4 linked regions of the Homo sapiens genome follow. The protein of the gene in region 3 purifies or fractionates together with the protein of the main gene of each other region. This does not show direct contact. Each region holds a gene or a part of one and is shown on either strand. Other genes may lie near its edges. The genes, in order: KCTD5, BAG1, KCND2 and KCTD2.

Region 1 (7,038 bases), on a different chromosome or scaffold from region 3:
CAGGCGCTGGCCAATGCTGCTGAGGTGAACTCCCAAAATGAGCCATGGCAGCTCCAGAGACCAGGTGGAGGGGAAATCACCCCACGCTCCCGAGCAGAGAGCTTCGGAGCCAGCCAGCCTCACTGTGCGTGGCCCACAACAGCTGTCTCCATGTGTCACGTGAGGGCTGCCCAACACCAGGTAGGGCAGCAACGCCCACGCCCTCGCCGGGCACAGCCTCCCAGAGGTCACTGCCATGCCGCACTGACCGGAGAGAGGGCAGTGGTGAGAGGTGCATGCCACCCCAGGCTTGTTCCGAAGGCTCCTGGAGGCCACGTCCCCTGAGCTGCTCAGCCTGACTCCAATACTCCACCCCCCAACAGCTCTGCCGTTCCCAGGCGGGTGCCCCCCAGGCTCAGTGCCCTGGACCACTTCTAGCTCGAGGCTCCCACTCACTCTCCAGTGCCTCGGAGGAGCCCATCCCCCTGTGCGAGGGGCAGCACGTCCCTCCCTGGGCCAGGGTGATTCCCAAGTTTACTGGGATGTCTGGAGTTGACTTGGGGAGACAGTGCAGCCCCCAAGCCCCCACCAGCCCTGTGTAAAACTAAGTAGCGCAGCGGACAGGCCAGGAGCAGTGTGGCATCTGAGCATCCGGGAGCCCCAACAGCTCCCTCCTGATGAGGGCAGGAGACACCCTGGAGACCTGCAGCCAAAGTGCTGTCCTTCGCCCTCCCAAGGCCGGGAGCAGCACGGGCTACTCTAGACAGAGCCTGGGGTGAGACCCATCTTTTCTGGACACACTGTCTCCCTAGGCCATCTTCCACAGGAAGGTCCAACTGCAGACACCAACCAGGGGGCCCTTGAGGCTGTACCCCATGGCCAGACACCCCCACAGGCAGGCAGGCCCGGGTGGCTGAGGGGCTTGCAGGACACGGCTGGCCTGGGAGGCTTAAGCGCATCAGGGATGCCGCAGGATTTGGCAGCTGAGATAGGGGTCTGCTGTCTGCCGCACTGGTCCTGACCCCTTGGCCCTGAGCCTGTGGCCTAAGCCAGACAGGAAGGTCACCCACTAGGGCTGGCGGCACGAGTGGCACTCCCTGCCCAGCCCCCAGGAGGGGCTCTTGGGTTCACGACCACTGATGTCCACAGCCTGGCCTGGCACGGGCACCCTCCAGTCATCCCAACAAACGCCCCAACACTGCCCCTGGGCATCTGCCTCACAGCAACAGCCCCACCACCAAGACAGTGCTACTGAGGATCTACAGCTGGCATGGAGTGCGGACGGCTCTCGTCAACTACAGGCAGGGACAGACACACAGGGAGGGTCTGTGGCAAGGGTCAGCTGGGGCCATGGGGTCAAGGAGGCCACGGAGCTCACCATGACATTCACACTTAATCTGAGCCACTCCCTGGGTGCCCCTGGTCCTCGTCGTCACTCTGGCGGCGTGCAGCGCGCAGTGGGGGAGAAGACAGGCTGTCAGGACAGTGCGGGTGGGCGGGTGCCCCGGGCCCAAACCCCCACGCCCGGTGACCTTCCAGTGAGGCCACGCCACGAGGGGACACACAGGCTCAGGGGCTCTGCCACATCTCAGAGGTGGAAACCTCCACGTGTGAGGCGGCTGCATCTTGCGATCCGGGGCTGGTCCTGTCCCACCATGTGCTGAGGGGCTGAACCCTGTCCAGAGGCGCCTGGCCTCTGGCCCCACTCCTGGCAGGCGGCGCTAGCCCACAGATCTCGGCCTGATAGGAGGGCCTCTGCTGCGTGGGCTCTGTGGACCCCACTGCATTGGCCCCACTGCTGCAGGAGGGAGGGTGGGGCCCTGGGTCACAGGAGGGATCAGCCACGGGGGCAGGCGGTGGATGCACCCATCGAGCATGGCTACGCAATGGAGCCCCAACACCACCAAGGAACCCCCTCCTCAGCCGCCCAGGCACTGGGAGACCCCGGCCTCTGCCCAGGTGCCCGCCCTTGCTGATCTGAGCCTGTCTCTCTCTGTTCCTTGGGAATAAATGGCGGCCTTGAGTCTAAGCGCTCTCAGTGAGCTCTGCGAGTCCTTCTAGCAAGTTCTTGAGGGACTGGCGTGGGAAGCAGGTGTGCTCATGTGTGGACCGCCTTCACTTGCTACAGGTGCAACCCCTCCCGCCCCACCACCCAGGCTCTCCCGCCGCCGCTGACTGAAGTGGGGGACAGCTGCCCAGCAGGGCCAGGCCACACATGCTGCAGGGACACCAGCGACGAGGGCCCACAGCCCATGCGGCCCTGCGCAGCCCAGCCAGGGGTGCCCCCATCACGGTCCTCCAGCTCTGGCCCCCGCAATCCCCCACGGCCTCCTGAGGCTCTGGCCTGAGCTCTGCCTCCTGGGGCACTGCTGACACCACCCCCATCAAGAAGCCGCCATAGCTGCCCCACTTCAGAGCAGGTATTTTTGGAAAATGAAATAGGGCCACATTCTCAACCACAAAGGGATTTGGGGTCATGCCTGGAGCTTCCTCACAGTACAGAGCGTGTCCTTTCTGCAGCTGCCAAGCCACCTGAGGGATAGGAGCCCAGGGGAGCTTGGTTATAAAAACTCAGCTCAGAAATAAAAAACTTCTAAAAATAAAACCATTTAGAAAAGAGCCCTACGATTGCTCCAAGAGGAAGAGAAGTGCCTCCTTGTGACTGAGCTGGGGCTCTCAGGGAGCCAGGGGTCGCCTCCTAGATCCGAGACTCAAATGGAAGAGCATCTCCGAGCCTGGCGGTGGAACCCCAGCTTCCACCCCGGCTGTCCCACACCAGGGCCTGCCCCAGCCTACACTGCCTCGGCCTCGAGGAACGGCAGTGGAGCAGGACTGGCCTCTGCCCACAGCAAGAGCACAACGGGTGGCCAGCGAGGGAGGCTCTGGGCCAGGACAGTCGCCTGAGGTGGAAAGGCTGCCGTGAGCTGGCCGCAGGCCTCCGAGAGACATGCTTGGCGGCCCCACCCCTCTGTTCCCAAGGGCATACCTCCAAAGGCCTACTCGGAGAGGCTCACGGGGACAGTCCTGGGCTGCTGGTGGCCGGCCAGAGGCCCCCAGCCAAGAGTCTGCGGTTGCCCAGGTGTCCCTGGTTTAATGCCACCAGTTAAAAGCCTTCCGGTTCTGGCCTCTCATGGCACCCACTCAACACCCTTTGCCAATGCCCCGAGCCTTCGCCCCAGGCTGGCTCCCCACAGAGCCCGCCCCACCACCCAGGCTCTCCCAGACCCACGCAGACCCCAGCCAAGAGCTCTCCAGCCACCACCTGGCTCTGAGGTCCGGGAGTCCTGCCAGGTGCAGCTGGCCCAGGCCAAGGTCAGATTCTGCTTGGATGGACGCATTTGTCCATCTTGGAGCCTCAACCTTAAGAACGTGCTTAGAGGAAATGCCACCAGAATGGGTCACCTGTGGGCAGGGCCACAGGGCCAACCTGAAAGCAAACGAGGCAGGGGTCCCTGCATTTCACCCCAGCTGCCTGCCCCGCAGAAAACAGAAGGGCCTGAGCCCCCGCAGAGTCTGCGCCGGTGCTGCCAGGCTGGGTGCCGCAAAGGGCCTACTCTGTGCAGCCTGAGAATCCCAGGGCCTGCAGGACACCCTCCTCTCGACAAAGATGAGGCCCACGTAGTGGCTGAGCCAGGGTACCCACCCCTGCACTCAGGGATGGCCCAGACCCCCACCACGACAACTGGACCCCCATGTCCCTGCACTCAGGGATGGCCCAGACCCCTATGACAGCCAGGCCTCAGCATCCCAAGTCCTCACTCACACAGCAGAGGCTGGGCCCGGGGAACAGAGGACCCTGGGTCCCCTGAGACACAGCCCTCAGTGGCATTCCTAAGAGCATGGCCCCTGCAGCAGGCCTGGGGCCCCTTCCAGGAGCAGCTCTGCATGCAGGCTGGGAGGCCGCAGGGGCTTACTGGGAGCCTGTGTCGAGAGAACCTGTCCCACGGGAGACCGTGTGTCCAAGAAGTCAGCAAGGCCACCAGGGGCGGACACCGGGAGCTTGATGAGAATGGCAGAAAAGGAGGAAGGTCTGAGAGGGCAAGAGCCTTCCCCACCCAAGACTGCCCCAGGCCAGGGCCGGCCCAGCACTCACCTTGGCCTTCTCGCTGGGCTCGCTGGCCGTACCGTACGGGGTGTTGTGCAGCTCCTTGGACACCACACAGAGGAACTCGGCTTGGTCTTCGTTCCCATAGTTGTAAGAGGAGCCGATGCTGACCAACTGCAAGGAGACATAGCCTGAGACGCAGCCCAGTGAAGCCTGAGAGACCCAGCCAGGCTGACATGACCAGCCTCAGGACGCGCCTGCCACCGCGAAAGCCACAGCAAAGACTGCCGACGCTTCAGGAAATGGATGGAAAACAAATCCCCGGAACACCTGCACGAGCACACGGGGCGGCACCCCACGCCGTGGCATGGCATGGGGCGAGCTCTTCCTCTGTGAGGACCCTGAGCTTTCCTTGGCGCTTCCAGCTGGGCCAAAAGGGGCTGCTGCCCCAGGGGGACGGAGCACAGACGGGTCCCTGAGCTGGGGCGGAGGGAGGGGGGCAGCGGGAGGAGAGTGGAGGGCGGCTCTGAAAACCTGGAGGGAAGAGCCTGGGACCAGCTGACTGGACCGAAAGCCGCTGGAGGAGCTGTGCTGTCCAGGAGTTCGGCCAGGGCGGGTCTGCTGCAGCCTGCTGGCCACACCCTTAGGCCACTCCAACCTGCCTCCCTCCGGGTCACCAGGCAGGCCAGGCCAATGCAGGTCCAGGGCCAACCTGTCTCTCTGGCCAGGCATCTGGCCCATGGCTGGCTACCCTGGGCCACCAGGCACTTCTGTGCTTTTAAAGGGAAAATTAAAAGGCAATACGCAAATCACAATAAGCATGACAGCAGCAGATGACCAAGCCAAAAAGCAGCTGGACGAGGCTCACACTTTGGCCTCTCTAAGACCTGCGCAGTTGGACCAACGGCCGGGAGAGCAGCCCGCAGCTACCTGCTGCTCCTGTATAGCTGGCGGCTGACCCAGTGGGCAGCAGTGGACCCAGCCCAGTGAGGCGGCCACAGGGGTGCCGGCATGGGCCCAAGCAGCTAAGGGTACCCCTGGGAGCACTCACGGCCATGCCCCCCGGAGCCCCTGTGTCCTCACAGCCACTTCCAAGCCCTGCTTGCAATCCCCTGCTGACCACTGGGGACCCTGGGTCCGGTCTGGCCACCTCCCAGCACCCCGCAGGGTCCCACCCCACAGCCGGGACAGCTGGTCAGCCCAGCGGCTTCCCTACATGAACTGGGAGAAGGGGTCCCCAAGGGATGAAGCGTGCCAAGCAGGTCGTAATCAAGGAAGGGGGAGGACACCCGTTCTTTGCAATGGGTTTGGAATCCACCCAGAAGTGCTAAGGTCGAAGACCTGAAGCTGCCCCGGGAGGCAGGTGCCCACCACGGGCAGGAGACATTGTTCCCTCCCAGCCAGAAGTCACAAGACGGTGGCAGAAGAGCACAGGTGCCACATGGGGACAGCCCTGTTCGCGGACCCCGAGCTGCTGACACGGCTTCCCAGGGCCCCAGCCCCACCAAGGGACAACTGGGAGGTGGGGCTCGCCCAGCAGCAAAGATTTCTGTTCCCGTGGGAGGCTCTGGCACGATTCTGATGAGGTGCAGGGCAGGGACCAAGCAGCTGGTCAGCAGCCCTGTCAGCACAGAGACCCAGAGTCACCCCGGCCCCCGGCCTAGGGGTCCAGGGTGGACGGTGGGACACAAATGTTTTTAGTGACATTTTAAGGGGGGGGGGGCTCCAAGTACCCTACAATGTGATCTATTATTTTGAAAGACTCCAAGGAAAAGGTAGCTTTCATTCAGAGGGACACTGGCTGAGCCTGTCACTCCCACAACCTGGCAGGCGCACTGGGCCATGGACAGAACCTGCCCCAGACAGAAGCAAGTGACAGAGGAAACTCAGGACAGGGAGGGCTGGGTGAGGTCACTGTCCCCACCCTCAGTGTCTGTCTAGCACCAGGAACAGTGGCAGCCAGGTCGTGGGCAAGGGCCCCCCGGTCAGAGGCCATGCCTCACGTGTCCTGAGGTCCCCGATGACAAGCCACAATGCCATGGCACAGTGGCCCATGCAGCACTCAGGTGGCTTCCGTGGAAGCTGCTGAAGAAGGCATGCCCTGCACAGACCCATCAGACCCCACCCGCCGCAGCTTGCCAAAACCAGAGAGAAGGCAACGAGGGCCTGGCAGCACCTTCCAGCATGGGCGGGAAGGGGAGGCAGCCTGGGAAAGGCGTCAGGGCCTCCATATGCTCCGATGGAGTGAGCTGTGGGGGACGGGGATTGCGCTGGATAGTGGGCTGGCCAGGAGGCTCTGGGGACGCCAGTCCCCTCCCTCACACAGAGGTGCCAGATGATGCGAAGAAAGCGCAGCGCTGGGAAGAAGAGGCAGGCCAGGGAGGAGGGGAAGGTGCGGGGCAGAGCCTGAGACACCTCTGCCCACCCCACCCGAACTCCCAAGGCTCCTCCAGTGGAAACAGGGCACAGGTCGCTGCCGTGAGCACCCCCAGAACTGCAGGAAGACGCCAGCAGCAAAGTCTGCATTTCCAGGAGCACTGAGCCCTGAGCCATTGTGAGCACAAGTTCAGCTGCAGCATGGCTGCCACCAGGCTGGCCAGGGCCCCTCACCTGCTCGAACTTCCAGCCGTCGGACATGGTGGACACCATCTGCGTGAGCTCCTCCTCCTGGCACTGCAGCACACGGTACACATGCTTCACAGGCACCTGCAAGGACAATGGGCACAGGTAAGGGCGGGCCACCCATGTCCCACTGCTGCCTGTGGCCCCAGCCCAGGTGACCCAGGGAGGCTGAGGTCCACTCTGCAGTTCTCAGCACAGGGCACGAGGCCCAAAGCAATCCTGAGCACATCCACAAAAGCAAAACACGCGGCCCGAACAGCTGCTGTTTTCTGCTTCCTCGTTCGCCTCCAAAAATATTTCTATTTCTAAGTTCCAAAATAAAATGAGTCATGTTCCTGAAATCCCAAGAGCACCTGTGGCTCGACATGACGACACGAGAGCGTCCACGTCTG
Region 2 (2,776 bases), on a different chromosome or scaffold from region 3:
GAGAAGAAGGGGTGCTCTCTCCCCTTCTCACGGGAGAAGAAGGGGTGCTCTCTCCCCTTCTCACGGGAGAAGAAGGGGTGCTCTCTCCCCTTCTCACGGGAGAAGAAGGGGTGCTCTCTCCCCTTCTCACGGGAGAAGAAGGGGTGCTCTCTCCCCTTCTCACGGGAGAAGAAGGGGTGCTCTCTCCCCTTCTCACGGGAGAAGAAGGGGTGCTCTCTCCCCTTCTCACGGGAGAAGAAGGGGTGCTCTCTCCCCTTCTCACGGGAGAAGAAGGGGTGCTCTCTCCCCTTCTCACGGGAGAAGAGTTTCACAGGCAGAAACCCCTTGGGTGAGCAGATCTGCGTGGGTGGGGCCTGTGCAATCACCTATCACATCTGCCCAGCAGTCCATGCATTAGGGCCTCTTTTCTCAACCCTTAAGACAATAAAGGCTGTTAAGGCTGTAAATTCCAATGCTGACGGAGATTCTGAGGCCAAATGCAGCTATAGAAGTTTCACTATTGATGTGTGCATTCAACATTCATTTGTTCTCCAAATATTTATTGAGGTCTTACTATATACAAGACTATATAACAAGTTATGCTTGTTATATATGTTATATATGTTATGTTATATATATATATGTTATATATGTAATATAACTATATTACAAGTTATGCTTGAAATAATGCTGTTACCAAGATAAAGAAGCTCCTTCACCCAAGGAACCCTGGTGTTAAAGGCAAAGATTAACCAAATAATCCCACAAGTAAACTATCATGGACTATGTAAATGCTGTGAAAGAAATGTATGGGAAGTCGAGAGAGGATCCCACCTGGGGGCTGGACAGGGTCTCAACACAGTAGGTGAGGGTTCTCCATGCAAGAGACATGTGAGTTGAATTCTGAAGGATGAACAAAAGTCACCTATACAAGGGTAGGGTTGGAGGAAGGAAGGTGAGGAGCTGTTCAAGCAGAGGTAGTAGCAGGAGCAAAGACCCCCAGGCAGGAGAGGGTGCAGTGCATCTGAGGACCTGAAAGAAGAGTGGCTGACAGCAGACAGCCAACAAATGAGGGGGTTGAGATGAGATGGGAGAAGGCATGGGGTAAAGACTTTTGCCTAAAGAGAAAGTGAGCCATTGGAGGGTTCTAAGCAGGGGACTGACATGGCAAGATTTGCACTTCATGATCACTCGGGCTGCTCTAAAGAAAATGAACTAGAGCAGAGAGGAAGTGGGAGCTAGAGGGAGAGGCAGAGGACAAGAGGAAAAAAATCAGAGAATGGGCCTGTGCAACCCTGTGTTGGTTGAGAGGCAGTACAGTAGAGGGGAAAAGCACTGGCTCTGAAACCAAACCACCCAGCTTTGTGTCTTGGCTTTGCCGCTTACTCTACAACCTTGCGCTAATGACCTAAGTTCTCTTGGTTTCCTCATCTCTAAAATAAGGATATCTGTCTACCTCTCAAGTTATGTAAGAATTAAATGACTAATATATATGAATAGTTTAGAATGGTGTTCGGCAGTTTGGTGCACAGTAACTTCTCATTAAATGTTGTGGCCCACGCCACACAGCTATCACACAAAAATAGATCAATAGTGAACCACTCTGATTAAAGTTGGGGTGCGGTGGGCTGGGACCCGAGCCTTGTCCACAAGTCTACCTCTACTACCTTGTCTGAGGTCTTAACCTGCCCAGTCCTGAATTCCTGGGACTTCAACGACTCTCTCTCTGCCAAATGATGTGAGTCTTTAGGTAGAGTTATAGCGCAAAGGGCTACTATCAATGTTATTAAGCATAAATTATGACTAGAGCCACAGAATGATTTCCTCATTAATCCAAAAAAAAAAAAAAAAGCAAACCACTCTTCTACTTTATGATGAGCACATAAACAGTTTTTTTTTCTTTTTATTTATCTACTTTTACTTACTTAAATTTTAGAGATGGGGTCTTGCTATGTTGCCCAGACTAGACTCAAACTCCTGGGCTCAAGTGATCCTCTAGCCTCAGCCTCCCAAGTAGCTGGGACTACAGGAAGGAGCTACTGCACCTGACTCAATTTTTTTTTTTTCTGAGATGGAGTCTCACTCTGTGACCCAGGCTGGAGTGCAGGGGCGTAATCTCGGCTCACAGCAACCTCTACCTCCCAGGTTCAAATGATTCTTGTGCCTCAGCCTCCCCAGTAGCTGGGATTATAGGCACATGCCACTACGCCAAGCTAATTTTTTTTTTTTTTTTTTTTAAAGCAGAATGGGGTTTTGCTATGTTGCCTGGGCTGGTCTCAAACTCCTGGCCTCAAGTGATCCGCCCGCCTCAGCCTCCCAAAGTGCTGGGATTATAGGCATGAGCTGCTGCGCCAGGCCTTAATTTTTTAAAAACAATGATGGGGTGGGGGTGGGGGACAGTCCACAAAATGGATAGAACAGCTGTGAAGGAAACATAGAACTCAGAAGGATATGGTTAACAAAAATGCCTTTGAAGGAAGCACATGTCACTCCTGAGAAGTTTATGGTTGGCTTCACCACCTGCCTGCTTTACTCATTCTGGTGCCTTCTCTTTGCCCTTCCTAATCCATGGCTCTGGCCTGGTTTCAAGCACAGACTCAGTCAACACTGGGTTCTAACCTTCTGAAGACTTGCTTGGGGACAAGGAAGCCTTGCATCAACCACAGGCTCCATCCAAGGAACGGCCCCCTGGTATCTCATGGCCTGTGGCTAGTCAGGGTCACTGGGAGGTGAGGACAAAGTCTAGAACCCAACAACCCAGCCAGATGCTCTGGAATTAGGTCACAATGAGGGATAA
Region 3 (7,038 bases):
ATTGATGAAACTTCATCCCACCTTGAAGTCTTTGTACTCCTTTTCTCTCTTCCTCTAATTCTCTTCATCCAGATAGTCAGAAAGTCATTTCATCACTTTAATCAGCCATTGGCTTAAATGCCAACCCCTTGGAAAAGCCTTGTTTGTCCCCTATGCAAAATAGCAGGCTTGTTACCCAGATGTATTTTGTTCATAGCACTCATCTCTACGTGGCATTATATCATATATTTACATTTTTATTTCTGACTCTTCCACTATTTTAGTTTTAAATAGTTCCTAAGGTGAGAAAGTTGACCTTTTGGTTACTGCTGTGGTCAATGACAGGTAGCAAGTGATCAACAAAGGTCTATTATGTTGAATTGAACTCTGTGAGCCACAGTCTGATTCCCTGAGAGTGTATGTTACTGGTGTTATTTTGGGTTTCCAAGAGCACTATTACTGATATTGTTAAAAGTGAAGAAAATGAAGAAGACGGAAGAATTAGGTCCACATAAAAGCAAAAAAGACAAGACCTTTTACTTTTAGAACAAAATCTTCCCATTCTATTTGACATTATCTCAACTGTCATCCTACTCTTTCAATGTTATTTTTTCCCATTATTAACCTCTAGGAACTCATTCCCTACTCCCCCCACACTTTTAATGATTTAGATCATTACATAATAGACTTGTCAAAATTCCCAAGGCAAAATGGATTGCGTTATGCTAGAATATATACCTACATTTATCTTTACATTTTGTAATCTGCCTTTTAATTTCTTAGAATGTTAACTTCTTCCTGATGGTGATTACATTGAGCTTTTCCTGACAGAAATTGCATCTATCTCCTATGTCATTTACAGACAATATTTCCCTATTTTAAAAAATTCTATTTTATGCATAAATGAGAAAACCTGGATGAAAAACAAGAGTTCCAGCTTGTGTTACTGGTAAGAGAGAACACCTTTCTAGTGATGAAGCATCATCAAAGTATCTGTTGACCCATGGGCTTTTTAAGCTACTCGTATTTACATAAGGAACTGGGCTTTCAAGGGAAGGTAGTATATTTCTATGTTGATTCACCTATATCATGAAGCATCTCCATATGCTTCCCAAAGGCATCCGCAATTTACCTGGACTTCACCAGAAATCAAACTGTTCAAGAAAATGGCAACTGGTAGCCATTAATTCTAGCCTTTGCAGAGTAGTTAGTTATGGATGAAAAAGTTGAGGTCTCACAGCCCTTCCCAGTCAAAAAGAGAAAAATTAAAAGGGTACATTTAGTAGATGAGAGGACAAAATGTTCAAATAACAAATGTAAATACTTTTAACATTGAACAAAGCAAAATAATTTGGCTTAAGAGTAGCAGATTATTGCTAATGTTGAGATGGCACAGCTCCATGGCTAAGGAGCTCTCCATGGCGTACAAGTGCCATCTCACACCATGATCAGCAACACATTAACATAGATATTTTCCTACATTTGAGCACCGAACTAGGTAATAACTCCCCAGAAGGTATACACTCAAACCTCAAAAGCCTTTCAATTTAGTTAGAATGTCAAGAGGTAAAACCATAAATTATATATAAAAATGACACTTACTAATATCAAGCACAATTCCAACTATAAATGACGTAGGCTTGCTTAGGGGGCTGAAAAGCCTTCATGGAGAAGGTCAACGTAAAGGCTGCCTCTCAAAGGAGAAAACTAAAGGGCAAAACATTCAAAGAGCAGTGCAAATATGCACAAAAATGGTGTTTCACCCTGGGGTTTTTTTTTTTTTTTCAATATCAGACGCTATCCCACATCATCAAATCTAGCTGCAGAAGCTAGTGGGAGAGCAATGCTTATACATACATATGTACATAAATACATACATACATGCATACGTGTGTGTGTATCCCTGCTTAGAAAACAATATAAGACATATGGAGAGTAGAAGGGAGGAAAGGGAATGAATTCATTATCACAACTTTAAAGGAAAAAATATACTTCCTTTTCAGTGAATGTTTATTTCACCATTTGTGTTCTTTCAATGAAAGAGAAGTTAAATTGCATATTTTTAATGACTCATAGGCCAACTCTTTCAGGAAATTAGGGCAAAATAACTGAATTCTTTTCCATCAGGCCAGGTAAAAGATTCACCATTGAGTAGTTTGCCGCCAAACGGCCTGAAAGTTCACTGGATGAGAATACAAGGTTGTATTATATCAGATGGGCACCATTATGATAAACCCCAGTGCTGTTTGAATAAATGCAGAGCCAGCAGTGATATTGAGGAATGTGGAATGAGTCACATCAATAGAACTAAGGGAGAAATGCACTACATTAATAGAATAAATAGCAAATGTATTCCTTCTCTTATCCCTGTATAATCAGCAGCAGTCCCGATAATTATTATAACACATTTCTAGATAATGTTTTAGGGTCTTCAGAAGAAAATGAGCATAAAAGTGAAATTTCAAAAAATATTGCTGCTATCCAATTATGTAACTATGGACAAGCCACACAATTCTTAAATGAACAAAATTATTAATTTTAAATAAATGATGGGTCACTTTTCTTCCACTAGGAATGTAGAGATCAGGTAATAAGAAATTTGAACTTTGTGACTCATTTTCAAAGATGAGTATAATTGAGAGGAATGTTCAGAAGTAAATGATGTAAATATAAAAATAAAATAAGACAGTTTATCAGTAGTCTAAAGGAAAATTAAAAATAAAAAAGAATAGCATAACAGACCCACTGAAAATTTAAAAATAGCGTTTTCTCTAGGGTACTATGTTGAAATAACACATATTAAACCTTTTCTGAAATACCTCTGTCTGGCAACCAAGTAAATGCTGAAGTACTACAGGCTGGATTAACATACATATTTTTAAATTCCACATCAAATATTGTCTCTAATTCAAGTGATGGCTAAAACAAAATGAAGACACATAAGATTTGGTTACTTGTAAGGCTAAAAGAGGAATACATACCACATTTCTCTACATTTCTTTAAAAGTTCATTTTCAACTTCCATCAACTAACATTTTCTATAAAGAACTTTACACAAATATGTCATAGTATGTCAAAATAAAAATAGATGTTACTCATATTATGGCACTTCACCAGAAAGATAAATTTTGGTACTTCCTACCTTTTAAAGAGTTTTATATTAATGCACTAGCAATAGTTATGTATAGATGTTGGCACAAGGGAAGATAATTTCACCCATTTCAGTAACAGCTGGGTAAACTTTAAGTCTCTACATAAATGATTCTGCAAGATATACTCCCATCATTACCCAAAGCTATATAATCAGAATACTGACAGGTATCAGGAGAATAGTATTTAAAAGTTTATCCTTCTCTTTAATAATATATAATTATAACATAATGTTATCGTATATCATAGATATGATCATATATATGCATATGATAAATTATTTCAAAGTATGCCATTCTAAAAAAGGAATTTCCCTGATACATCGCTATGAAAATTTAAGTGAAAACTTTTCTGCTTTTTTGTTGTTCCTTAAAATAGTAATTCACCAAACGCACAAAAATTGAAATATGGCAATTATGCTAAGTTTTCTGGCAGCAAAGATGTAACGCCACCGTATTTGTTTTAGATAAATATATAATACAAATTAAATTTTTACTTTCCCAAATTTGTTCTGAAATCAGCATATAATTTATATCGTTAAAATAATAAAATTTATCTCTAAACATAAACTTTACAGAAATGCCATGTAGCAACTTTCCCATATTGAACACTTTGATGAAAACAATTTTGTTTTAAAATTAAAGTGAGATGAACCACAAAAATAACACTCCTGAAATTCTTAAGTTTTATATTATGAGTAATATGATCCCTTCTTTTAAAGAAATTGTCTAAATGGTAATAAGACCAAGAATGCAAATATTTATATTACTTAACATAATAATAACCCTTCAATTATTTAATGTGCCACCTGGTACCACTTCTAATTTCCAGATCATGTGTATGAGGTGCAATAGTAAACTGAAGCTTGACACTGTCTAGTACATTTTTACAAAATAGTTTTTGATTATTGGTGAACACTTGGAAATTTCCTAAGTTTAGCAAGATTTGAGTACTACAATCTAAATGAAAAATAACAACTGGATGTTATTTTCCAAAGGACTTTAGGACAAAAGAGGAGTTCCAGGTTCTTTTTCTAATAAGGCAGTTAATGGCAGTAACTAGAGTTTACATTATGGAAAGGGGAGCCGGGTGGATAAAAGGGTGATTCAGGGACCTGTGAAATGCGCTCAGAAAGAAGGGATGAAATGGAGGAACAGAGCTACCTGATTACTCAATCTAAACACTTAAAAAAAATTCTGACATTATTTTTTCATTTTTTTTAAACTGTGCTTTCTATGTTTCCTACTTTAGTAGGAAATTAAGTAGCCTGAAAACTATTTTTAAAGCGTTCATTTTTCTGATAGATTAAGTAATGACTTATACAGTAAGCATAGTCAAGTTATAGTCTACTGATATATTTGATATTTCAAGGAGCAAATAAAATGGTGATACAAATACACCTTGGTTCTAAGATAGACACACTCAGTTCTTTAGATCATAAAACCAACTGAATATTGTCTAAAATACTCTAGAAGCTGCAAATGATTCTGCCAGTCCTGAATGACAAAGCTCTTGGTTATTTATTCTCATGTAGATAACGTTCATACGAGATGGAACTTTCAATAACCACTGTTTACAATCACATTTTCACTTCTATTATCACTAATTGAAGAACATTTAGCTCCATTAAAATTAATAGCCCCATAAAAAGAGCTCAGATAACTCTTGATAATCATTCAGACATAGTTGGATATTGGCTTCAACTATTATTTCCCAGAAAGTTTGCACCTTACACTTCATCCTCTAAGTATAGAACTACAGCCTAAACAATAAAGTTAGGCAATGGCTTTTATTGAATATTTTGTATTATTAAATAACTGAGTCACAAAGATGGCACCAAAAAGGCAGGGCTTATAAGAATCTGTTTCTTCAGGGTACAATACATAATACATTTTGATGAGAAATTAAAGACATTTTTCTATGAAATTCTGTTATATTATAAAGCATATGATTTGTCAAGTGTCCATATATGTTCTCATTTTGATTACATCGACATTTCCACATCTTAAAAGTATGACTGCTCTATTCCATCAGGATCATTAATTAGCTTAATTTCCTGAAAATTAAAATGTTCAAATTCAGTGAAGCTAAGTCTTTAAAGTAACTTCCACTTAGCTTCCAAGTTCTGAGAAAGCGTGTGTATTCAATGCTTCTAATCCACTTACTTACCTATGAAACATGTGAACTAAATCCACTGCATAGATTTTACTCAGGCAATATAATTCAATTTCTTAAATATTTTCAAAAATGGGTGCTTTTAAGTATTTTATTTACATAATAAAAAATTGTCACTAATGTTTAATGTTGTCTCATATTTTCCTTGAAACAAAAATAAGCTTCAAAATAAAATAAAAATTGGAAAGTCATTTCCAGAAACAAGTTTTAAAATAATGCTAACTTCTCAAGTCTAGTATAGAACTATTAGCTATATGAAATTAGAATTCTCATCAACATTCTTTTTATACCTATATTCAATCATATAGACACTATATAGCATTAAAATGATTCACTGATACCTCAAGAAACACAGCCATATATACCAAATTTTTAAAGTGTATTTCATTTTAATAGTTCTCCCTTCCTATTAAAACAGAATCTTTTTTATTCAAGTGTACTTCTAATTTGACGTCATGATGGTGATTTGCACTACCCATTTGTCCTTAATAAGGATCTCCTGCTACAAAATGACAAGACAACAAAAACAAACCTCTTTGATAAAGAATCAGCACCTACACTGCGAAGGCATTCTGCATCATCCTTATCCTTATAAACTGTCACAAATTTGCCAACAAGATAAAAAGGAAATATAAGAAGTAGAACATGGATTTTCACTAATTCATTTTTTAAATGTACCAGTAGGTCTTTAAAAAAATGAGACTAAATAAAAATCATAAATCATTGTATTTTTCTTTACCCCAATTTCTTGTTTAACCTAGCCTAAAATTCTTCATATATAAACTATTCCATTAGCTGGCCACATGACATGAGAAATTCTGTACAACACAATATGTCTAATAAAATTAAGTTGACTTTAACCACAATGTCATTTAAAGAAGCCAATTAAATTATCCAAAAACACAAAGCTTAAAGAGTAGCCTTGGGAATAACTTTTTTCTTATAGCCATTACCAAATCCTCACTAAACTGATTACCTATGCAAGAATAGTAGCACAAAGCTGAAGAAAAGGCACTCACATCACTCCCCAGCTTATCTAAGAACTCATAAAAGTAAAAAGATCTAACCATTTTATTTTATTAGATTCTCTAATATGTAAAATGCTGCTACTTTTCTGCAGTTTAACATTATTAATCATTTGCCTCCTTTCCTTTTCTCTACTACCTAAAAAAACTTAATTCTAGCCCTAAAAGTATATTAAAAACAACAGCATGAATTCAGAAATTTGTCCCTTTGGTTGCAGAACTTCATTATACCCCCAAAAAAGAATTCACAAAAAAATTCTAAAAGGAAATTAGGACCCCAAATTTTATAATACAGCCAGCCTTGGTGACCATCAATCTTACCAGATACTGCTCTATCTTCTATGTGTATTTAATGGGTGTGGACCCATTGCCTGATGGGATCTGTAGATTCTAAAAAAAAATGTGTGGATGACAGTCTTTTGCTTCTTTTTTTGAAACTATGAACCTAGAGCTTGAAATATGTTGCAAATTTAATTCCACTGCATATTGTAGAGTTGATCAGTTTCAGCTCTGATATTCTAAAAGACTGAATAACCTATCAACCATAATTAAAGTGCATACATATGAATATGTGCATATATATTATAAAATACTTTGATAATTACATCTACAATCTATGTATTACGATGTAAAATAGGAATTATGGTTCTTAGAGGAAAAATGTACACCATAAGTATCTATTCATATGAAAATAATAGTTCAAGTATAC
Region 4 (7,038 bases), on a different chromosome or scaffold from region 3:
AAACTCTGTGGATGCAGCCCGAAAGAGGGTGCTGCCGCATCCGGATCCTCGCCAGCATGGCACTCCAGAAAAGAAAGTAATGGCGGGGGTCAGGGGGGTGGTCAGAGACACAGGGGGTCCCCAGACTGCCTAGCACATACATACATACCACTGGGGACAGTACAGAGGGGAGCAGGTCCGCCAAGGTTAGAAACCAAGAGACACAAATATTGCACATTCAGTCAAGGCATTTCCAAGAGAGTCACAGAAATAACTCTCTCTGAGACACAACATAACACATTTGGCAACTTTCAAAGAAACAGCCTTCCCCACTCCAAGCCATCAAAGGGTCCATAAGTGCCTTCATCTTTGGTCCAGTTGAAAAAGCCAGGGAAGGAAGACAGGGTCAATGGGGAGTAAGAAGAGGCTGCAGGTGCAGTTCCTACAGCTCCCACTTGTCTGACTCAGTGCAGGATGCCGCCTGTCTCAAACCTCTTCTTGGAGGGAAAACAAGCTCTCCAGAGGGTCCCGGCTGCTGGAGAAAGGTGAGGCAAAGCTGCATGTGGTGGCAGCCGGGAGCCCCAAATCCAGAGCAATGATCACCAACCTCCAACCACAACAAAGGACACCCCATCCTCCCTTTCCTTGGAGGCTCTATTCATGGGAATGCGGGGTACTCTGGCAACTCTATGCTTTACCTAAAACCTCAATTCGACAAACTGCAGCTAGAACCCTTTGCATCTGCTGCACGTCTTGGAGGGTGCATAGGAGGGACGGTGTTCCGAAGCAGCTGCTAACGTCCATTGTGGCACACATAGGGTGAAACCATGGCACGGCACGGGAACAATCCTCTTGGCTCCAGCGTCCTTAAAGTACAGGCCATTTCCAAGGAGCTAGGCCTTCCGCCCTCATCCCCCAGATCCCCGAAAGGCTCCGACTGGGAACCCAGCCCAGCTGCTGTTGTAAAGATCTGTTCTAATACTGGCTAAGCAAATGAAAGCAGGTTTCTGAAAAGGTATTCTGCAGCCAGAAGTCGCACTGTCTTCGGAGTCCTGCAGGTGGGGAGGGAGTTCCTTTAGTTTTGACCAGAACACTTCTTCACAGGGGGCCAGGATCAGCTGTGCTTTGCAGTGGCTCGGTCACTGGACAGGAGTGAGGTTTCACTTCACAGAGGGGCTCTGCTGACTGCTCTCCTGAAGGTCTGGAGTTTTCGGGGTCTTAGTTTACATCCGCGATCCTCTCTCCTGAAGAATCTGAAAGTTGGAGATGGGGGAGAGGCTGAGGCTGCTGAGGGAAAGACAGAGATGTCGGGGGATGCTTTCCACTGGACCCGATGAGTGGCATGATGGTCCTGTCATCCCAGGAAGCAAGCAGGGGTGCAGCCGCAGCCTCACCCGCAGTGCTTCTGGTGCGAAACACTCTCTTGCTGGGCACAGCTGGGTCTAAAGCTTATATGCTGTTGGACCAAAGCTTTGCCAACTGAAAGGAAGTGGTTCCAGCTTACCTGGTATCCACGATTTAGAAGCTGTGTGTGTGTGTGTGTGTGTGTGTGTGTGTGTGTGTGTGTGTGTTGGGGGTGAGGGGGGTGCACAGTGGAGGGAAAAGAAACAGTTTTCCAGGAACTTAAGGGAGGTAAAGGTCACCAAGGTAAGAAAACACCCTTTTCTCCTGAGGCAGTGAAAAAAGCACAGTTTTAAAGAATAAATCAAAATACCTTCCAAGTCTGAGTTCAGAAATCCTACCCTGTAGTAATTAGTGGCAACCAGCTTTTCTTTTTCATTGATTTGGCAGAGGATGGAGAAAGTCTACCCTTTTTAGGTTCATATTTTCTAACTAAAAACACCTGTCAGTGCTCCGTAAATCCCAATTAAATTACAACAGTCAAAAATAACAAAACGAGGGGAAAATGCAACGCTGGCTCTAGAAGGCCAGGGAAGAAGTGAGGAGCAAGAGTTCAGGAAAAGCCCACGGAGGGGGTGCGAACAAGCAAGCCAGAGGCAACTGCCCAGGGAAGGGGCTCCTTACCTTCGCCTTTTCGCTCGGCTCTATGACGATGCCATTGGTAGAATTATTTAGTTCTCTGGAGACAACACAGAGGAATTCTGCCTGATCCTCATTGCCGTAGTTATAGGAAGATCCGATGCTGATGAGCTGATGAACCAAGAATACAGTGAACATTCATGTGGCAATCTTAACATACTTTCGAAAGTGCTACACAAATCACCCCTCTTCCGACTGAACTTTTAAGTTATCAAAGGTTTAACTCTTTATATGAGTTCTCTGTGACTACCAAAGCCCCCGGGGAGAAATGGGCCTGTTCTTCATCAGGGCATCATTGGTGAGGCCTCCCCAGGAGGAAGAGTATGAGCTCCACTGTCCCCTCACCCAAGCTCTGAAGTCCCCCCCCGTCAGCGGCAGGATTAACATGCCCACGCCCCGTCGAGCACAGCAAGGGAAGACAGAACGCATCTGCCAACAAAATGGACATTTGCCTCAGTCACACACACAGCTGGCTCCTCTATCAGCAGAAGCCCTAGACTGGGGACAGGAGGCTCTGGAAAGCACCGAGCCAATCACTGATCAGCTACTGGAAGTCATATGCTGCTGGTACTTTTTATTTCCAGACAGGGTCTAGCTCTGTCACCCAAGCTGGAGTGCAGTGGTGCAATCACAGCTCACTGTAGCCTCCACCTCCTGGTCTCAAGTGATCCTCCCACGTCAGCCTCCTGAGTAGCTGGGACTACAGGGACTACAGCCACCATGCCTGGCTAATTCTTTTATTTTTGATAGAGAAGGGGGGTCTCGCTATGTTGCCCAGGCTGGTCTCCGAACTCCAGGACTCAAGCAATCCTCCCACCGTGGCCTCCCAAAGTGCCGAGATTACAGGTGTGAACCACCGTGCCCAGCATGCTGGTACTTTTAACCTTTTTGGATAATAGAATTCAGAATTTAATTCTAAAGAGGAAATACACACGCAGGGGAGCAGCTCAGGCAGAGGGTGAGGGCATCCCAGTGAGCAGGCGAGGCCTCACATGGGCGGCATGGCTGACTGTGGTAGGATGGGGCTGGGGGCGCCTCCGCCTGTCTGAAACAAACTTCCTCATCCAGAAGGGAGGCAATAGGAACACCCTCCGTCTTCCCACGGGACAGTAATAAGATGAGAAATTAACAAGAAATTATTCATTTTAGTTTCACAAAGAATACATTAAAAAAATCCTTTGCTTAAGAGCTCATATTAGGAAAAATACTTCTGGAGTGGAGGGCATTAAACTCTTGGCGACGTTTTACAACCCATGCCCAGTAAGAACCAGGATGACAGACACAGGCAGAGTGGATTCCGTGGTGGAAGCTAAGTGTGAGAAATAATCACCGCTGGCTCTGAAGGCAGAGACAGCTTTGCACTTGATCTGTGAGATAACAGCATTAATGCAAAGTGTGAGTTTTCTTTTAGAAGGTAAGCATCTGGTGAGACAGCTGTTGACCTGTTAAAACTCTACACATAAGTAGGCATAATCCGTATAAAATCATATTTACTCAGGCGGTTGATCCCAGGGTGGCGAGTGGCGGCGACCGAGACCCTGAGTGCAGCCTGACCCGCCCTCGCACGCGCGCCCTCCCTGGCCGGGCCCACTCGCCACGCGCCCAGCCATGAACCTGGCGAGCCAGAGCGGGGAGGCCGGCGCCGGCCAGCTGCTCTTTGCCAACTTCAACCAGGACAACACAGAAGTGAAAAGGGCATCAAGAGCAGCTGGTCTTGGCTGTCGCGCTGTTGTCTGGTTAGTTCCAACCCTGGTTTCTGAAAGTATCACCTTGGAAGGCTTATGTTAGAGGACTTTTTTGGCTTTTTGAAATTGAAGTGAACCAGTTAATAAGTGGCAGAGGATCACTTGAATGTGAAATAGAAATATCAAGGACTACATTTTTCCAGTGGACACCACAGCTTGTGGGAAGTTAGTGATGTAGCAATGTCTGTTTTAAATGCCATGTCTAAAAGGGATGGAATGAAGAAAGGGATTTGACTTTCCAAAAAAAAAAAAAATTGTATTTACTCTATTCGCTCTGGCCTTCCTATGTTTTGAAGGCAACAGAATTTAACAAGTCTGCCATCTAATGGAGGAGAACAGTGAAGCTCCAACTGTCATAGCTTTGTTTTGATAGCTCAGTCGTAAGCACGAGGCGGAGAGAAGTAGGGGAAACGGCCGCACCACACTTCCCATGGCGCCTGATCCTTCCTAGCACAGCTGTTCACCAAGCTCTTCACGGTGGATTACATAAGACATTCAGAACCAAAAAGTTCTGACCCTGGGAAAAGAAATGGAAGGATTGTTGTCGAATCCCAGTCTCCTTTAGGGACTCATTCTACGATCCCTGTGAGGGAACAAAAACCAAAGGCTTTGAGGCACTTCAAGCCTAAACTGCTCGTTGGCTCCCCTGGAAAGTCTGCGTGTGAAGCTAAGACATGATGCTCCTCTGTTTCCCCAACTCCTCACGCACCACTAGGCCAGCAGTGCCCACCAAATGGCTCTTTGCCCATGTTTTGGAATAGGATCCCACCTGGCCGTAGCCGTCTCCCGTGGTTATTAATTGGCCATCCACACTGATTGTTTGAAGAGCTGCAGACCCCTTGAACGGGGCCTGGGATTGCTGCTCTGTTAAGAGATGTACCTGTTCGAATTTCCAGCCGTCGGACATCGTGGACACCATCTGCGTGAGCTCTTCTTCCTGACACTGCAGGACTCTGTACACGTGCTTCACGGGGCCCTGCAATGACCAGGCGCAGACTGAGAACAGCACCAAGGACACCACAGTTTGCAGCTGCCCCAAGGAGGCTCTTCAAATGAATAAACACTGAAAAGGAGTTTGCTTGGAAATCTTTTCTTGGCAGCCACCCACTATCCCCTTTTACAAATAGTACTGTGGCGTTTCTTTTTTTCCCTTCTCTTTAAAAAATGTTTTTCTTTTTAAGTGACCACAAGCCAGCATACTGTGGCTTTTCAATAAAAACATATCCAAAGAGTGAAAGAATAAAAAAGGTAAAATAATTCTGAACTTCAGAGGGATGAATGCTTGAGCAACTATGCCAACAAACTTAGATTTAATCCATTTCCCCAAGTCAAAAATAAGGTAAAATTATTATTATTTATTATTATTATAATTTTATTTATTTATTTTTGAGACGGAGTCTCGCTCTGTCGCCCAGGCTGGAGTGCAATGGTGCAATCTTGGCTCACTGCAGGCTCTGCCTCCCAGGTTCACGCCATTCTCCTGCCTCAGCCTCCCAAGTAGCTGGGACTACAGGCACCCGCCACCACGCCCGGCTAATTTTTTGTATTTTTTAGTAGAGACGGGGTTTCACTGTGTTAGCCAGGATGGTCTCGATCTCCTGACCTCGTGATCCACCCGCCTCGGCCTCCCAAAGTGCTGGGATTACAGGCATGAGCCACCGCGCCCGGCCTATTTATTATTATTTTTTAAGACACAGTCTCACTCTGTCGCCCAGGCTGGAGTACAGTGGCGCGATCTCAGCTCACTGCAACTCCGCCTCCCCGGTTCAAGCGATTCTCCCGCCTCAGCCTCCCGAATAGCTGGGATTACAGGCGCCTGCCGCTAAGCCTGGCTAATTTTTGTATTTTTAGTAGAGAAGGGGATTCACCATGTTGGCCAGGCTTGGTCTTGAACTCCTGACCTCATGATCCACCTGCCCTGGTCTCCCAAAGTGCTGGGATTACAGGCATGAGCCACCGCACCCAGCCTTATTATTATTTTTGAGATGGAGTCTCGCTCTGTTGCCCAGTCTGGAGTGCAGTGGGGTGATCTTGGCTCACTGCAACCTCCACCTCCCTGGTTCAAGCGATTCTCCTGCCTCAGCCTCCCGAGTAGCTGGGATTACAGGCATGTGCCACTACGCCCAGCTAATTTTTTATTTTTTTTTCCTTTTTTTTTTTTGAGAGAGTCTCGCTCTGTCGCCCAGGCTGGAGTGCAATGGCACCATCTCAGCTCACTGCAATCTCCGCCTCCCGAGTTCAAGCGATTCTCCTGCTTCAGCAGCCTCTTGAATAGCTGGGATTACAGCCGCCCACCACCACGCTTGGCTAAGTTTTGTATTTTTAGTAGAGACGAAGTCTCACCATGTTGGCCAGGCTGGTCTCAAACTCCTGACCTCAGGTGATCCGCCCGCCTTGGGCCCCCAAAGTGCTGGGATTACAGGCATGAGCCACTGTGCCCAGCCAATTTTTTTGGATTTTTAGTGGAGACGGGATTTCGCCATGTTGGCCAGGCTGGTCTTGACCTGAGGCGATCCACCCACCTAGGCCTCCCAAAGTGCTGGGATTACAGGCATGAGCCACTGTGTCCGGCCGACAATGCTGTATTTTTTCTTCTATGTTTTCTTCCAAAAGAGGTATAACGATCGCCGGGTGCAGTGACTCACGCCTATAATCCCAGCACTTTGGGAGACCGAGGTGGGCGGATCATCTGAGGTTGGGAGTTCAAGACCAGCCTGGCCAACATGGTGAAACCCCATCTCTACTAAAAACACAAAAAATTAGCCAGGTGAGGTGGCACGTGCCTGTAATCCCAGCTACTCGGGAGGCTGAGGCGGGAGAACTGCTTGAACCCCGGAGGCAGAAGTTGCAGCGAGCTGAGATCGCGCCATTGCACTCCAGCCTGGGCGACAGAGTAAGACTCTGCCTCGAGGAAAAAAAAAAAAAAAAAAGAGGTATAGCTATCATTAACCAAAGTACTAAGGATTTCAAAGATTTCCTTCCATATTACATATAGTACAAATCCTCTGAAGATTTTAATTGGTTGTAACCACTTATTTTGGAAACCAATTGTATAAGTACAAAATTCAGAGTATCACAAAAGATCTGTGATGTTGGCCACAGCTGTCAAAGTCCCAGGTATTTAAGATGCCATTATACTGCCTCTTTTTTCTCCCTTCCAAAGTAAACCACTTGTGCTCTCAAATGCACCAGGATCAATCACCTACAAAAAATACTATTCTAAGAAATAGGAGTCTGGGTATGGTTGCTCACGCCTGTAATCCCAGCACTTTGG

What was found.
Region 1: the proteins of KCND2 (region 3) and KCTD5 purify together in Homo sapiens (affinity purification with mass spectrometry; 2 studies listed by BioGRID and IntAct, with this or other methods). This does not show direct contact.
Region 2: the proteins of KCND2 (region 3) and BAG1 purify together in Homo sapiens (affinity purification with mass spectrometry; 2 studies listed by BioGRID and IntAct, with this or other methods). This does not show direct contact.
Region 4: the proteins of KCND2 (region 3) and KCTD2 purify together in Homo sapiens (affinity purification with mass spectrometry; 2 studies listed by BioGRID and IntAct, with this or other methods). This does not show direct contact.

The regions. Positions count from the first base shown.
Region 1 is NC_000016.10:2,699,513-2,706,550, reverse strand, and holds part of KCTD5 (BTB/POZ domain-containing protein KCTD5), read right to left. Parts: intron 6,731-7,038; coding exon 6,635-6,730; intron 4,199-6,634; coding exon 4,073-4,198; intron 1-4,072. UniProt on the Homo sapiens protein: Its interaction with CUL3 suggests that it may act as a substrate adapter in some E3 ligase complex. Does not affect the function of Kv channel Kv2.1/KCNB1, Kv1.2/KCNA2, Kv4.2/KCND2 and Kv3.4/KCNC4.
Region 2 is NC_000009.12:33,251,949-33,254,724, forward strand, and holds the end of BAG1 (BAG family molecular chaperone regulator 1), read right to left. Parts: 3' UTR 523-2,776; downstream 1-522. UniProt on the Homo sapiens protein: Co-chaperone for HSP70 and HSC70 chaperone proteins. Acts as a nucleotide-exchange factor (NEF) promoting the release of ADP from the HSP70 and HSC70 proteins thereby triggering client/substrate protein release.
Region 3 is NC_000007.14:120,276,154-120,283,191, reverse strand, and holds part of KCND2 (A-type voltage-gated potassium channel KCND2), read right to left. Parts: intron 1-7,038. UniProt on the Homo sapiens protein: Voltage-gated potassium channel that mediates transmembrane potassium transport in excitable membranes, primarily in the brain. Mediates the major part of the dendritic A-type current I(SA) in brain neurons.
Region 4 is NC_000017.11:75,057,212-75,064,249, reverse strand, and holds part of KCTD2 (BTB/POZ domain-containing protein KCTD2), read right to left. Parts: intron 4,741-7,038; coding exon 4,645-4,740; intron 2,131-4,644; coding exon 2,005-2,130; intron 1,233-2,004; coding exon 1,203-1,232; 3' UTR 1-1,202.